2 separate regions of the Homo sapiens genome follow, and region 1 is linked to region 2. Evidence: fine-mapped expression QTL. A gene starts in region 2. The other region holds a variant in brackets. All regions are shown on one strand. Distances are between the middles of the regions. Region 1 overlaps TLE1 (TLE family member 1, transcriptional corepressor). Region 2 holds the start of TLE1 (TLE family member 1, transcriptional corepressor).

Region 1 (8,330 bases), 33 kb before region 2:
CAGCCAAAAACTTCACTGTATATTCTAACAACAAAAAGTCAAATGCTGTGTGCAATGCAGGCTGAAGTAGAAGGGTTTAAATGCAGAATTTCTCAACCACACTTTATTTTCACAGAACATAGATAGGGAAAGAAAAACTGAGAATGGCGCTGCCCTTTATTTCTAAACAACACCAGTCACTACTTCTGGCTGTAAATTTCGGCTTGGAATGGTAGAAAACAAAAAAGGACATAAAGAATGATAACATAGGACCTTAAAAAATAAATAGAACAGAATTTGGAAGATCACCCTTGTTCACAAAAGGGGTTCATAAGTTTACAGCAATTTTAAAATATGCATTTTACAGCCAGATGCAATGGCTCATGCCTGTAATCCCAGCACTTTGGGAGGCCAAGACAGGGTGAGCCCAGGAGTTCAAGACCAGCATGGGCAACATGGCAGAACCCTGTCTCTATTTTTAAAATAAATAAATAAAATACCCATTTTAATACCTAAAACTTTAATATTAAATCCGTTGATTGGTTGATCACTTGTCTGATCAACCAATCTTGACCCACCAGTCATTTTCGGAAACTCCTGGAATTCCTCTCATTCTTTTATAGCCTTTTGATTCTTTACCCTCCACAAGGCAAAGGAAGGACTCCAGCCTCAATTCAGAGATGGAAACTCACCCCACACCTCCCAACTCCCAACTCCACCCACAAATAAAAACAAAGCCATAAATTTACTTTGGGAGGCATGAGAATGTAACATAGAGCCGTGGATCACTAAAGTCTAACAACTACTGATATACTCAAAAGGCAGACAAATCTATTGTCATATCAGACAGACAAAGGTTATGGTGGAAGAGGCTGTTACAACAATAATGAGATGGTGACCATCCGGCATGGAGCAACAGGTGCCAACCAGGATACCCAGTATTCCAACTCCTAGTCCAATAAACTTTCCACCCTGCGTGAAGATGCATTCATCCCGTGCACACTTAGAACACGTTACAGCATTTACTAGCTTATATCCAGAAGGAAGGTAAACTTTTCAAGGCAAAGCTAAAATACAATAGTCTTGAGTCAGTTTCATAGATTACTCATATAAAGAGATTCCTCCCTCAAAGAATGTTAAGATTAAACCTCTATGACTTTGTAACTAAACAAAATAGCTTATACATACATATGACTCATTAAGTTAATGTATTTTGGACTATTATCATCCACCCCTTCAAGGACAGCATTAAGACAACTGCCTTGATACATAAGTACAAAAGAACTATCTGCCTCCATAGTAAAGTCTACCTTGATGGAACCATTTTTAAAAGTCAGTATGAGAACAGCTTTCTATTTAAAAGATATAAAAGACACCTGAATTTTCAGTAGCTCTCAAGCTTATGCTACTTAAAGCAAAAGCTGTACATTGGATAGTCATTTTGCAGTTTTCCACAGGAAAAAAAATTAATTTGGGGGTTGAGCTATTGTCACCATTTCTACAGTGTGCCCTCAGATGTGTTGGATAGACTAGCAGGGGGTTTACACACTTCAGCTGTAACAGATGTTCTTCACACTTGTTCCTTGTGATAAAATTAACATCTTAAAACTAGCTAATTTGCAAACAGAGAAGCAACATAATTGCACTTTAACAGCTGAACAATTTTACTTACTTCCTGAGACAGAAATGGGATGACTTGTGCACAAATCGTATTCAATCTCTTGGCGATTTCAGTCTATAAAGACAAAGCCACACAAATGTTTAGAATACTTCACAATCAGTTCAGAAAGGTAAAACTTCATACCCCTAACACTTCAGTCCTCCTCTCCCTTGCTCTGGAAATGTGTATAAAATGGTTTCCCCAGGTTATGTTACTAATACTTATCTTGAAATAAACAGTAGATATTAATCCCACTTGCAAAGTAAGCCACAACTGCACACTTCATTGTAATAAGAGATGAGTAGTTTGATTGAGTTGGAAAATCTAGGCGGTTTAAGGCTATATGATCATTTAATATGGTGACTATATATATATACACATATATATATGTATTTTTGAGACAGAGTCTTGCTCTGTCGCCCAGGCTGGAGTGCAGTGGCACGATCTCGGCTCACCACAAGCTCTGCCTCCCGGGTTCACACCCTTCTCCTGCCTCAGCCTCCCAAGTAGCTGGGACTACAGGCGCCCGCCACCACTCCCGGCTAATTTTTTTCTATTTTTAGTAGAGGTGGGGTTTCACCGTGTTAGCCAGGATGGTCTCGATCTCCTGACCTCGTGATCCGCCCGCCTCGGCCTCCCAAAGTGCTGGGATTACAGGCGTGAGCCACTGCACCCAGCCAAGTGTACTTTTTCAATGATGGCACACCATGACACATTTATGTCATTATTGCAAGTTCATTCAAGCGGGTGTCAGAAGCCACTGCAGCTGCAGCACTGTCAAAGCAGTCCACCTTTCAAAGATGAGGCCTAAGGTGATAGAGTAGAAGAAAGGCCTGCTGACCTCTTTGCCACTTGTCCCAGCTCTTGTACAACTGAAAAAGGATTTTATTGTTCATAGCTTCCCTAAGTCTCAAACTTTCAAACAAACCAAGAAAACATGACTAAAAACATTCCAGTCTAGAGGGTGATGGTCAAGTCATGATATCCTGAGTATTCGGAAAGTTTCGCCACAGTTCAGTAACAAACTCAAAGACCTCACCGACAGGGCCCAGGGGTCAGCTGAACATAATAAAAGGTGTCCTTAGTGTCTATAGCACGGGCTGTTTTAAAGAAGGCAGGAAAGGCCGGGTGCGGTGGCTCGCGCCTGTAATCCCAGCACTTTCTGAGGCCAAGGCATGTGGATTATGAGGTCAGGAGTTCAAGACCAGCCTAGCCAAGATGGTGAAACCCCGTCTCTACTCAAAATACAAAAATTAGCCGGGCGTGATGGTGGGCGCCTGTAATACCAGCTACTCGGGAGGCTGCGGCAGAGAACTGCTTGAACGAGGGAGGTGCAGGCTGCAGTGAGCCGAGATCACGCCACTGCACTCCAGCCTGTGCGACAGTGAGACTCCACCTCAAAAAATAAAAAAAATAAAGAAGGCTGGAAAAACCTTTGCTCCGCTCCACATCCACAGCAGTCCCTCTGCTACAAGGGACAAAAACTGGCAAGAGAGGGAACAGAGGGTACTCTACTTCTAGCCCAGGGAAGGGTCCACCTGCAGCACCTCCAACACCCTACAGCAATGCAAAGCAGCTCTGCTTTCCTCTACCTAGGAAGAACCAGTTCTGCTTTTTTAAAAAAGAAAAAAAAAGTCATCTGTAAAGAGGCCCATCCTTGACCTTACTTATTTCATCATTTTGTCAATGCTTACTAAATGCCACCTATATTACTGAATTAAGCAATGAAAAGGATCACAAGAAAAAAACTTAAAAGCACGCAGTCCATGACCTTGAGAAATAGAGAATGGAAAAAGACAAAGTAGAAATCCCAGGAACAAAGTCGAGCCTGCGGTGAGCTGAGATCGCGCCACTATACTCCAGCCAAGGCGACAGAGCAAGACCCTGTCTCAAAAAAAAAAAAAAAAAGAAAAGAAAAGAACAAAACCCCAGGAACTTTACAATCAAGCATATAAAAAACAGCAGCCTTGTATCTTCTAAGATGATCTGAATTAACTAAGCAAAGTCTTTGGTTTTATAAGATTGGATTTAGTCTGACCCAACCCAATTCTCCCTGACCACCAATGAGACAAGGTTACAGACAGACCATGCCTTGGACAAAATGTACTAGAAGGGGAAATGACTGGTAGAGAGAGGAAGCCCGTGCATGACCTTGCTTTAGCCAGCGAGGCAGATATATGCAAAAAGGGTGCAGCTGTACCAGGTACAAAAACAGAACTGGGTCAGCCCCACCCAGTTCATTTGATCACAGCCACCCACTCAAGCTACCTCAAGGTCATGGCTCTCCTCGAAAGC[A/ATG]TGGGCAAGGCTTTCCTTTGCAACAGGGTTCTGCACTGTCTATTTGAGTGCATGTAAAGGAGTAGAGATGCCTTTGGTAGGTATCCTACTTAGGTCCTTGCTCCCAACTCCCTACCTACCACACATTCCTGCAACACTCTGTACATTCCTCTTCTCGGAAATTCACATTGAAGGTTTCCAGTTTTAAAAATGATATATGCTCACTTTGAACTCATACACATGCACACAGATACATATACAGAAATATAAAAGAAAGTTAAAATAACCCTGAGCCCATCATCCAAGGATAAGCATGGGTAACATATTGGTGATTTTAGGATACCATCATTCCAGGTTCTCACTTATGTGCACAGAAGCCCAGAGTGAGAGACACATTTTAATACCAAGGGGTTTCCGTTACATACCCTGCCTTTCTATAATTTGTTAATCAAACATGTGTCAGGGACACCATCCCAGTCAATACAGATTAACAAGTACCTTGAAACATTCCACCATACAAGCATATAGATGTCTAAGTACTATTGACACCAGTGAATATTTATGTTTCATTTAATTTTGCACAATTAACAACTCTGTCAAATACGCCTCCACACAGATCTCTAAAAGGAATCCCTAGATGTGAAACTGCTGGGTCAAAGTGTATGCATATTTTAAGTTGCAATGCATGCTGCCAAACTGCCCAGCAGAAAAGCTGTACCAATTATTGCGAGTTTAGGAGGGTTCCTGCTCTCCCACCCAGTGTCAATATTGAGTTTTGTTGACCTTCCTTTAATCTTCATCCATCTAATGGATTAAAAAATGACCTCATTTTTATTTGCATTACTTGAATTCTTCCTCTAGTTAAACATCTTTTCATGTATTTATTGCTCCACTCTATGTTTCCTTTCTCCATTCTTCCATTGTTGCTTAATCATTTTTGTCCTTTGGTGGTGCTTCCTTGAATGGGACAAATATTAACCCTTTATCAGAGTTTGCTCAGCTTGCCACTTGTCTTTCAACCTTGCTTAATATGATTTTTTTGCTGTATAGAACTTTAAGTCTTTATGTGGTCAAATGAAAGCATTTTCTTCCTATGCTCCTGGCCTTTAGGTAAAGATTAGAACACATCAATATCATAAAAGCCATTCTTACTTTTCTTCTAGTGTGCTATGGCTGCACTTTTTATGCTTAACTATTTAACTGGAATTTATTTTGGTTTAAGAAAAGATGCCCTCATCTTTAACTATGATAGCAACTATGTGTTACTACCTAGAATGGCATCAAAGTAGACTTGAACATGGTCGGAGGACAGTTAAGATCCAGTCTGAATGAAATGAACTTGTAAACCTTTAATAATATTAAAGTTATCAAAAATAAAATAAAGAAAAGAAAGACATATGAAAGCAAAGGCAATGAATACAGTGGTCTCTCGGTATCTGTGAGGGATTGGTTCAGAATCCCCCATGGAAACCAAAATCTAAGGATGCTCAAGTCCTTTATATAAAATGGTGTATTTGCATATAACCTATGCACATCTACCCATACACTTTAAATCATCTCCAGATTACTTAAAATACCTAATACAATGTAAATCCTAGGTAAATGGTTGTTGTATTATTTAGGAAATAATGACAAGAAAAAAGTCTGTACATGTTCACTACAGACATAATTTTTTTTTTTTTTTTTTTTTTTAAGACAGAGTCTCGCTCTGTCACCTAGGCTGGAGTGCAGTGGCACAGTCTTGGCTCACTGCAACCTCCACCTCCCGGGTTCTAAGGAACTCTCCTGCCTCAGCCTCCCAAGTAGCTGGGATTACAGGCACGTGCCACCATGCCCGGCTAATTTTTTGTATTTTTAGTAAAGACGGGGTTTCACCATGTAGAACAGGCTGATTTTAAACTCCTGACCTCAAGTGATCCACCTGCCTCAGCCTCCCAAAGTGCTAGGATTTATAATCCTAGCATGAGCCACTGTGCCTGGCCGATGCAATGTTTTTTAAAAAAAAGTATTTTCAAACCATGGTTAGCTGAATTCACAGATGCAGAACCCACAGATACAAAGGGCCGACTGTACTATGTAAGTTGGGTTAGACTGGATAAGCCTGAAACAGGAGGAGAAAAGTTAGAAATCAAAGCTCAAACTGATGAAAAACATCGAAAGCCATACCATATGTCCTGGAAATTCTACATAAATGGTCTGGAGAAGAAGCAAATAGGAGCAATAGAGGAGAGTCTTACCCAAGACTTCCCCTCCGTCTGCCAGGTCTCTAAACCCTAATCTTAAACTATACTGACAAGCCAGCTTGACTTTTGAGCCAGAAAATCTAAATCCAAGTCTTGGACTGTTCTATTAACAAGCTGGTTTACCCCAGAAAAGGCGCTGACGTCCTCTGAAATACCCTGGCTCCTTCACCTGCACAACCTACCTCCTGGCAGGTGAGGGTACACAGCTTACCCAACAATGCTCTGTGAGTCCTAAAACATCACTAGCTCTCCAAGAGGACTTCATGAACATCTTCCCTTCAAATAGTCTGGATTGCAGCAGCATACAAACTGGCAATAATTCTTAGTATTATCTCTTGCTTCAACAAAAGGGTATTCTGGTAAGATTCTTAATTTAGCACAAATTAACAAGTCTCGTAGTGACTTTATTTTATTTATGTATTTATTTATCTATTTATTTATTTTTTTTTTAGATGGAGTCTTGCTCTGTCACCAGGCTGGAGTACAGTGGAGCCATCTTAGCTCACTGCAACCTCCGACTCCCTGGTTAAAGCAATTCTCCTTCCTCAGCCTCGCGAGTAGCTGGGATGACAGGCACGCGCCACCACACCTGGCTAATTTTTCTATTTTTAGTAGAGATGGGGTTTCACCATGTTGGCCAGGATGGTCTCGATCTCCTGATCCTCGTGATCCGCCCACCTCAGCCTCCCAAAGTGGTGGGATTACAGGCGTGAGCCACCGCGCCTGGCCTCTCGTAGTGACTCCTGCCCATGCTTCTATTCTTGATTGGAGTGTGCTGGCAGGTTAACCTGGGTATTTGACCCTGCTGCCTTCCACCTCTTGCAAAGGCTAGACAACTCCAGTGAAAAACTGAGGGCTAACTGTATTTCCCACCTAGAAATAATTTTCCTACCCAATGATGAATACCTATTTGGTACCCACTAAGTCATAATGCTTATAAACTTTCCCTGTGCCTAGATTTTTTAATACTGTGTAAGGCAACAACAATAAATCTGCATTCAAGAGCTATCCACAAACCAAATCTGCATGAAACCCTCCACTCAGAAATGTAAGCAGCAGGATGAAGGCTCCAGCAACAAGACTTTCTTCATGGATGGCCACCACCTACTGAGGCAGGAGGAAGCAGGAGTCCAAATTACCTGTCTACAACAGTCTTTCATTCTCCTTACCTATGCCAACTCTCCTCACTGATTTGCATATGGTAATACAGTTAGCCCTCATCATCCAAAAATTAGGGTTTGCATCTTGGCAAACTACTGCTAGGGGTTCTATGTTAAATCACTTAAACCACTGGGTCCCAACCAGGTCTCGTACTTAACAGGATTACCACCAATCTACTTGAGAGTTTCATCAAAATCGAGTGAGCTGATGAGCTGGTATGTAAGGTATACTATTCCAAAGTGCTGTACAAATATGAGAGATCTTCCCAATCCCTCAAGGCCTGCCTCAAATTCACTGAGAAGCTGCCTTTCCCCCATAACGCCAATAAACGCACTCTTCTCTAGGCCCTTCAAGATCCTCCACAGCACTTACTGTCATTTGGTAAACTAAACCTATGTGCTTAAAAATCACCATGTCATACAAAGAAAGCTTCCATACAGTTTCTTAACAGCTTTCTACCTAAAAGCCTTCTCAACACAACAAGATGGGAAGCATTACGAGAACACGACTCCTACTAAATACTGTGACACATTTCTTTGCCGTACCTCCCCTACTAAAACTGATGCCAGGGTACATATTTAATATACTTTCAAAGTCATGCCTCAATGAACCAAAACTTAATCTCCATGCACCCCTAAATTCAATGGCCAAGGTGCAACCAGATAAACCATTACTAAACAGTGCTAGACAAAGGCTGTTCACAAAAAAAAAAAAACAAAATCATACGTTGGTAAGTATAAAATTCATGTACATGTATGGTTTTATTTTTTTATTTTATTATTATTATTTTTTGAGACAGAGTCTCGTTCTGTCGCCCAAGCTGGAGAGCAGTGGCGCGATCTCGGCTCACTGCAAGCTATGCCTCCTGGGTTCATGCCATTCTCCTGCCTCAGCCTCCTGAGTAGCTGGGACTACAGGTGCCTGCTACCACACCCGGCTAATTTTTTTTTGTATTTTTAGTAGAGACGGGGTTTCACTGTGTTAGCCAGGATGGTCTCCAACTCCTGACCTCG
Region 2 (8,330 bases):
AGAAATTTTTCAAAAATTTGTTTGCTAATAAGCCACTAATCCTGACTATTGCTTCATGCAGCCCCAAAGCATAAAGAATACTCCACAGATAGTCATATACCTTGATTACCACGATTAAAAAAAACTCCTGAATACCCTTCTTTCCCCCCAACAGGTCCACACTTCCTTGCAAAACAGCACAAAAACATTAACTATTCTAAACTTCAGCAACTGTAGAAGATACCCAGCCCTTTCAAGAGGATAAATCTATACAGGTGAAAAAGTAAACTCAAGTCTTAATTCCTATCTGTCAATAAAGAGGCTAGTTTATATTTCCAAAACACCTCTCCCTCTCCTAGTCATTTAAACACTTGTAATTATCAAGAAGCAACCCTTGATGCAGAATACTACCATCAATCCACAGGACAGGAAACCAAGGCAGAAAAATAGCATACAAACCCCCACCCCTAGAGCCCACTACTGAGAACAAAGCCAGTATTATTAAATCATATGAACTGATGTCTCATTTCAGCTTGAAGTTCAACTAAAGCTTACCTGTTTGTGCATTTCAATGTTTAATCCATATGACATTTCATAATACTGTAAAGAGAAAAAAGAATCAAGCATTTCATTAACTCATGTTTTTTACACTCTGCTAACACGTTTGCTAATATCATATGAAAAAGGAAAAAGTCCAATCTTTGATACCTACCATCACATAGTGCCTCTGCATTTCTGTCTTTTCACTTGCCAGTTTCTCACATTCCAATTTAAGGCTAGGAAAACAAAACAGGCAACTTAATGTAAACATTATGTCACTTGTTTTAACATCTGCCTCACATATTTGCACTTCAAGTAAAAACACAGACCAATTTGGAAAAGCCATAAACTATCTAGGTAAACACCCAAAAGCTTTGTCCTTGCATTTAATAGGGAAAAGGAATAATGTGAACAATACAAGGTGTCCATTCAGCTACCATTCTTCTTGGTGCCTATCTGGTTAGATGACAAGAATGAAAAAAATCTGTCAGAACCTCTAACTGATTCCTCCTCATGGTCATCTGCTCCCTACCTTCCTGCATCAGTTTGTTTCTCTGTACTCCACCAAAATCCGGCCCTTGCACAATCTTCACTCTTAGGCATAGGCTGTGCCATCTTTGCCAACTCAAACGGTCTCTAGGTTTGAAAATCCTATCTGTTAAGTTACTCCTACAATTGCTGGTCCCTTTCAAAACCTTTGGTTTTTAAATCCCTGCCAAAATATGTCAAGTAGCTACTGCAATAAAGTGGGTTGAAGTTCTCCCTGCTGGGTAAACACGGTGTGTGCAAGTATGCCTCAAGCTGCAGAGATATTATCTACAAGTAGACAAAAGGTCAATAATGAGAAAGCCCCTGACAAAGTAAGAAAATTCACACCCAAGCCACTTCGCCTCATCTGTGTGCTTTTTCTCAAGCATGACAAAAGCAAAAAATGTCAATACAGTTATTTCTGAGTTAGAATCAGGTAAAACTTCATAGGAACAAGGGAAAGAAACTAACCTTTCTGGGAAGTTCACTATTGGCAAAGTATTTTACAAAAATTTATAAGTCCTTTGAAGGTAAGTCTCATTACTTGAAGAAACTAAGGCTGAGATGGATATAAATGTGACTCCACTCTCTCATCCTACCCAAACCAATCCGAAATGACGCCAAAGCAGGTGAGCTTTCTTCTTTATACTATTATACCCACCTCCCTCACCATCACCAATGATGGGCAATGTTATAAGCATCTAGCCTTCCTTAATGGACTTTGCCTCAGAAAACCCAATTTTCTAGTATGGCAAACAGCGATTTCAACATGGCTTTGCTTCCCTGAACCCACACTCCAGGACTGAGACATCGATTGAACCAATGTTTCAGCTCAGTCTGCTGAAAAATAAATACATGAAGTGCAAATATTGACGATTCTCATGCAACTCCTAAAGACATGAAAAAGGACTCCCTGGAACAGTGCAAACCGGCAAAAGGGAAACAATGGGAGGAGGAGGAGACAAGAGAAGAGGCGGCCCGGGAAGAACCAGGAAAGGGGGTAACTTGAATGACAGGTCTTAACTGAGACTCCACACGCCACCGCCTGGACGCAAGAACTAAGTACAGGCGCCGCCGCCACCCGGCTGGGTGCAAGGGGCACCGGGACGCCCGCGACCACTCGCATGGCGCGGCCGGACACGCACCTGTGATACTGCGCCTGCAGGAACTGGAATTCCTCTTTAATCCGGTCCAGGGACTCCGGGATAGTGAACTTGAAGGGCTGGCCTGCAGCCTGGTGCGGCGTCTGGGGGCGACCAGCGAGGGGGACCGAGGGACGGGAATGCGGGCGGATGAATAAAGCAGTAAGTCAGAGAAGGCAAGAACGGGTGGGACATAAACATAAAGTTAGAAGTGGCTGAAAACGAGGCCCCAAACTCGAGTTTGCCCTTCACTATGGGGAGGGGGAAAGCGGACCCTCCCCGGGCCCCGGCTTCTAAAGAGGCTCGGAAGCTCTTCCCAGTCTCCAGGGCGGATTGCGCTAAGTGCGCCCGGGTCACCAGGCCAAAGGGAAGGGGGCTCCCCGGCGGCCAGGGAAGACCAGGCCAGATTGTCGGTGTCGCCGCCCCTTCCCCCACGGCGGCGATAATGACCCCGGGGACCAGAGGAGAAAAACAACTCCTTTACGCTCCCCATTCCCAGAGTCGCCGGGGCCACCTCCAGACGCACCGGAACCGGGGCCGCATTGACATGTAAATAGGCGAGAGGAGAAACAAAGGGGGGGGCGCCCTGCCCCCACTCGGGGAAGGTAGAGGGGATATGGCTGCAGGAGAGAAACCCCAGCCTTCCCCAGCGCCCCTGTCCGCTCGGTATAGACGTCAAGTAGGAAGGAGCCCAAAGGGAGGGAGAAAATTAAGAGTTTCGGCCCACTCCCCACCCCAGGAAGAGAGGGCCCCAGACCTCCCCAGCCTTACACCGCTGAGGGCGAGAAGGTCCGCCGGGCCTCAGAAGCCACCAGTCTCCCTACCGCCCGGGAGAAGCGCCTCCCCAACGATCCTGGCCCCCCACCACCACCCAGCCGCGCCTCACCGGGTGCCGGCTCTGCGGGAACATCGCTCTGGCGGCGGCCGGGGCTCTGTTCCCCGGCAACTCAATTCTCCGGTCAATTTCCAACTTTAATCCCGCCGAGGAAAATTAAGCCGGAAAGCCAAGCAGAAGCGGGGAGCGCGCTGGCCACGCACGCGCGCTCCGCCGGGCGCACCGGCCACTCGGCGCCCGCAGCTGCTCCGGCTCCCGCTCCCGTCGGTGCGGGCTCCGGCCCTCAGGGCCACATTAGTGGGCGCCCCAGGCCCAGCTGCTTCAAGAACCTGCGCGGAGACGTCGGGCGCTCGGGGACTGTGCGCGGGGGCAGCGCTCCAACCCCCGGCCTCAGCTGCCCGGGCGGGGAGGCGGGGGCGCGGTGACTCCGACCGCACTCCCCTCGGCGATCCGCGTGCGCGGCGCCAGTCCTGGGCAAACAAATCCAGACGGACTGCTTTTCTTTGCTCTTCTCCTGGTCCGCCTCCTCTTCGGGCTTTCCCCGAGGCGGCGGCGGGCGAGGTGCAGGTGGCGCGGCGGCCCCCGCTAACCCCACACAAACCCGACGCTTTCGGGGCGACTCCCGCAAGATTCGGCTGCGCCTTCGGCCGGGTGCTCGCAGGCTCCCGGGACGCAAAGGGGAGCGAGGTTGAAGACGCAGCGGAGGCTCCTGGCCGGGGAGCGACGGATGACGAGGCGGGGAAAGTGCGGAGGGCGCGCCGGGAGGCGGCTCGGCACGCCCCGTGCGACCAGCACTCGGTGTTCTCCGCGGTTGCACAAACCCTCCGGGCCCGACGGGGCTACTCCACCGAGAGCAGTCCCGCAAGTGCCCAATGCTCCTCGAGCCCGGGGAGCATCAGGGCGCCGCGCCTCGGGCGCACTCGCCCTGCACGGCCGGACCGGCCGCTCCGGACCCTTCTTCCGAGCTCCTTCTTCCTCGGTCTTCTTTCTTTCCTTCCTTCACCTTCGTGTGCTTCTCCGCAAAGGGCGCTCCAGCCCACTGCAAAGTTCTCTCACCACCCGAGGGACGACATCCACGAGATGGTGGGGAAAACAGCAGGAGTGCGCTCCGCCAATCGGCCACCCTCCCCGGCGGGCAAACTCTGCGGGCGAGTCCAGAGTAGTCACAGCGGTGGGGCCAGCGGGGGTTTTGGTCGCCGCGGGACGACGGAGGTCCGGGCTGGTGGCGCGGGTCCCGCCCGGCCGTGCGAGGGTGGGGTGGCGCAGTCGGCTGCCTCCGGGACGCGGGGCACAGAGTACCCGCCGCTGTTTCTGCTGCTGCTGCTTCTGCAGCCGCCGCTCCCACCGCCGCCGCCGCCCGCGCCTCTCGCGCCGCTTACATTAACACGCGGTTTCACACTCCGGAGCTAACCAGCGCCGGCCCCGCCCAGCCCCGTTCGGGCGGGGGGCGCGAGCGCGGAGCCGGCGGGGGACGTGAGCCCGGGAGGTTGGGGGGTGGGGGGGGGGCAGAAGGCCCGCATCAGCCAATCGCGTGCGCTGCAACCAACGTGGGGCGCTGACGCGCTCCTCCCCGGAGCGTATGGCAGCGCAGCGCCGGACGGGGCGTTCTCCCTCCCCCCCTCCTCTCGCTTCCATCTCCGCCGTCTCCTCGGTCTCCCTTCCCATCCCGGCCCCTCCTCCGCCAGCCGCGTCCTCCCGGGCTTGGTGAGGAACTGTTCCTGGAGGAGCCGCGGGACGCCAAAACCAGCCAATGGGAAGCGGCGATTCGCGGAGATTGGCACTGATGATGGGAAGGTCGGTGGGAAGGAGAGCGGCGGGGCTGGGCTGTCAATCAAAGTAACGTGGGGCTGGCTAGAGAGCGCGCGGGCGCGCGCTAGCGGGAGGGACTGGCGAGCGTGCAGCCGGGGAAGCTGAGGGCTCGAGTTAGCAAAAATCCTGCCACTTGCTCACTTTTCCCTTTAATGAAAATCCTCAGATCTAAGTGAAAGTAACTCAAAGACTAGCTGCGGAGTTTCTTATTGGAGGCGGAGGGGGGCTTTTGGTAATTCGAGCAAATGTGTTTTTCAGTGCTGGACCCCTTGTTTGATGCTACTCTAAAAGTGAGGCCACATTCAAAAATTTATCTGAGGTTTGTTTTTCCTTGAGCTGCCTTTTTACGGATGTACGAGAGGGAGTGGACTGTGCACTTAGTTGGAAATGCGTAAATGAGCAACGCCACGGTTGGCGTAGGTACACCAGCAAAGACGACTGTGATGTCCTCCCACCCCACCCACCCCCTTTGCACCCAAAGTGGTAGGATTTGATTTTTATTGCAGGATTTCAAGCCACTTTTCAAAAAGATCGTCCTGTCCCGTTTGGCGGGAAGGATTCCCAGGGTGCTGCCAGAACAAGGCACGCGTGTCCGCAGATGAGACGTTTTGCCCGGGGCGCGAAATCCCAGGTCTTCGTCTTAAAAGTCCTGACTTCGCTGTGTTGGGAGAGGTGGGGAGCGGCTGAGGTTTTTAGGAACTTCTCAGCTACAAGACTACGAGTCTGTTTCCAATTCCTGGGAACAAAGAGAGACAATGTAATAAACCAGCACTGAGACCTGAAAAACCTGTCCCGCACACCCCACCCCCACAGTCTGGGTGGTACTCCTGAGCTGAGCTGTGTGAAGAGCTAAATGGGAAGAGTTAGGTAAATGACGTGGCTAAGGTTCTTATGAAGTGGAACTTGAGTTAAAAGGGATTTTGAGATTGTAATAATCAAGACATGCTGTATAATTAATGCTGAGAGTCTTTGGTTTTTGTGTATGTCTCTAAATACACAGCAGAAAACCGTCAGTATTGCCGCATTTATGCTTTTGTTTGAGGAACATTTCCACATGAGCAGTGAATGAATAATGCTGGTTTAGCCAAACGGTGGTAACTTCTTCCATAAGGGCACATCTTGGACAAGTATTTATCTTATGTTGGAAACTAGTTAAGTTTTTGGTATTAATAACCCCCACGTTATTATTTTATTATTTTACCTTCAAGAGACTTACGGGAAGGAGCTTATTTAAACAGACATACATTTTATTTAAAGATGTGCTTTTACAGAGTTCTTTTTCTTGAAATAGTTTTAGAAGTCATTTTAGATAATACATTTCACTGTTGGAGTTGTTTTTAAATATGTATGATATTGATTTGTCTATAATTGCATCACTCCCAAATATCAATTATAAATGAAAAAATAAAAAAGCGATTTTAACCAGTCTGTACGAAGCCATAGTAAATTCTTAAACAAGTTGGGCATTGTAGCTTTGTGGTGTTCTCATTAAGTACAGTTGGGAAGGCGGCTGTATTATTCATTTTGCTAACATGGAGAACAAAAAAGAAGAAAGCACTGCCTCACTTTCCTTGGTTAAATTTGGTGACGATGACAGTTTTGCTCGACATACAGGACTTTTTGGAATCATAGGATCCCAGGGCCTTTAGCAACCTGTTTTCCTTGAAATTATCTAGTGATTGAGCCACATATACCAGTCTGCGGCCAGTTCATCCCATAATCAGCTCCAGGACCGGACAGAAAGTGCTTGGATGCCACAAGTATGCTTGTATACATGCTGTGACAACTGGAGCAACTGATATTCCTCCCCGGCTTACCCAGGCTTTATGTGGTGCCTGTATCTTGAATAACTGGCACACTCCCATTAAGTTTAAACAGAGCCATTAAAATATGCTTTGAGATGGGGCAAAAGTGTTGCTACTTCTCTTCTTTCCCCACCCCGCTGCCCTCAAAATCAGTACTAAGGCATCTTTAAATGTTCTCTAACATAACTACTCACAGACAATGTGTCTGCTCACCATATTTCCCAGTTTGCCATGAGTAAACACTAGAAATTCTCTTTTAACTAGTCTTTCCTTGCCAATAGAGTTTGAAACACCAGGCCTTCTGATTTCCTTATAATGAAGTATCTGTAGTATCTACAGAGCATTATGAATTTAAAATTGGAAGGCCTTTAATTGTGTGCATAAAAATGGTTGGTTTTGGTTTTTGAAGCCTTTTTTTCCCATTTAGAGCATCGTCTGTCAGAGTGGGAGAAGGCTCTGCCCTTTTCAAGGTCATATTTTCTCCACGATTGTCATGCTGTAATAATTATACTACAAAACTCTCATCAAACTGCATTACAAATGACGGCGTTTAAACAGTCAAGTAGCTTTAATCTTATGTTTTAAATAAATAATATATGTGCAGATTGCCTACAGCCTGTTTAAAAGAAAATAGTCCTCCTCATGAAATCTATAATTTTGGTCTTCCATTTAAAGCCTGTTAACCATAATCTTCTTTACCTTTAACATTCATATGTCAATGATGTTTTTATGTGAAATGTATGATGCTCCCACTGGAAATTTTCTCTGAAAAACACAGTACCCTTTTTATGCTCTGCAGAGAAACAGAAAGATTGTCAGCTTGTTCATTTTCTTTTGATGCATATGTGGGTATATTCCCATTCATTTGTTGCTGATTATCAAATTTTCAACTCAGCAATAGCCTAAGTAATTACAAAAGCTAGATGTTATCTAGTACAGATACTAAACAAAATAGGAAAAGTTATAGATGCTGATCGTAGCAACTAGACATCTTTTAAATCTATTACTTTTTTATTTGAAATAATAATTGTAATTTTTTAATTTTTTTTGGAGACGGAGTCTCACTCTGTCTCCCAGGCTGAAGTGCAGTGGTGCCATCTCAGCTCACTGCAACCTCTGCCTCTTGGGTTCGAGATTCTCCTGCCTCAGCCTCCCCAGTAGCTGGGACTACAGGCGTGTGCCACCACACCCGGCTAATTTTTATATTTTTAGTATAGACGGGGTTTCGCCTTGTTGGCCAGGCTGGTCTCAAACTCCTGACCTCGTGATCCGCCCTCCTCAGCCTCCCAAAGTGCTGGGATTACAGGCATGCACCACCACACCTGGCCAATAATTATAGTTTTTAACAGACCACTTTTGTTGTGTTCTCTTCCTTTTAGCTGAGAATTATTGCTCATACATTTCCTCATTTGACTTTTTTTTTTTTTTTGAGTCAGCATCTCGCTCTGTCACCCAAGCTGGAGTGCAGTGGTGCGATCTCAGCTCGTTGCAACCTCCGCCTCCGAGGTTCAAGCGATTCATGTGCCTCAGTCTCCTGAGCAGCTGGGATAACAGGCGTGTACCACCACGCCCGGCTAATTTTTGTATTTTTAGCGGAGACAGGGTTTCACCATGTTGGCCAGGCTGGTCTCGAACTTCTAACATCAGGTGATCCGACCGCCTTGGCCTCCCAAAGTGCCGGGATTACAAGCG

What was found. PIP is the estimated chance that this variant, and not a neighbour inherited with it, causes the effect.
Region 1: its variant is fine-mapped to the expression of TLE1 in whole blood (INTERVAL, PIP 0.90).

The regions. Positions count from the first base shown.
Region 1 is chr9:81,652,323-81,660,652 of GRCh38, forward strand. TLE1 (TLE family member 1, transcriptional corepressor) reads right to left here. Exons shown (of 20, transcript NM_005077.5): 5 at 1,652-1,714. Among named protein-coding and RNA genes, the nearest start is that of TLE1, 33 kb to the right of the region's middle. The variant A/ATG (reference allele first, on the strand shown) is at 3,935.
Region 2 is chr9:81,685,142-81,693,471 of GRCh38, forward strand. It overlaps TLE1 (TLE family member 1, transcriptional corepressor), which reads right to left and starts at 4,406. Exons shown (of 20, transcript NM_005077.5): 1 at 3,076-4,406; 2 at 2,193-2,293; 3 at 692-755; 4 at 535-579. The coding sequence starts at 3,099. TLE1-DT (TLE1 divergent transcript) reads left to right here and starts at 4,572. Exons shown (of 4, transcript NR_109772.1): 1 at 4,572-4,818. RefSeq lists enhancers at 1-61, 3,717-4,431 and silencers at 4,304-4,653, 4,804-4,953.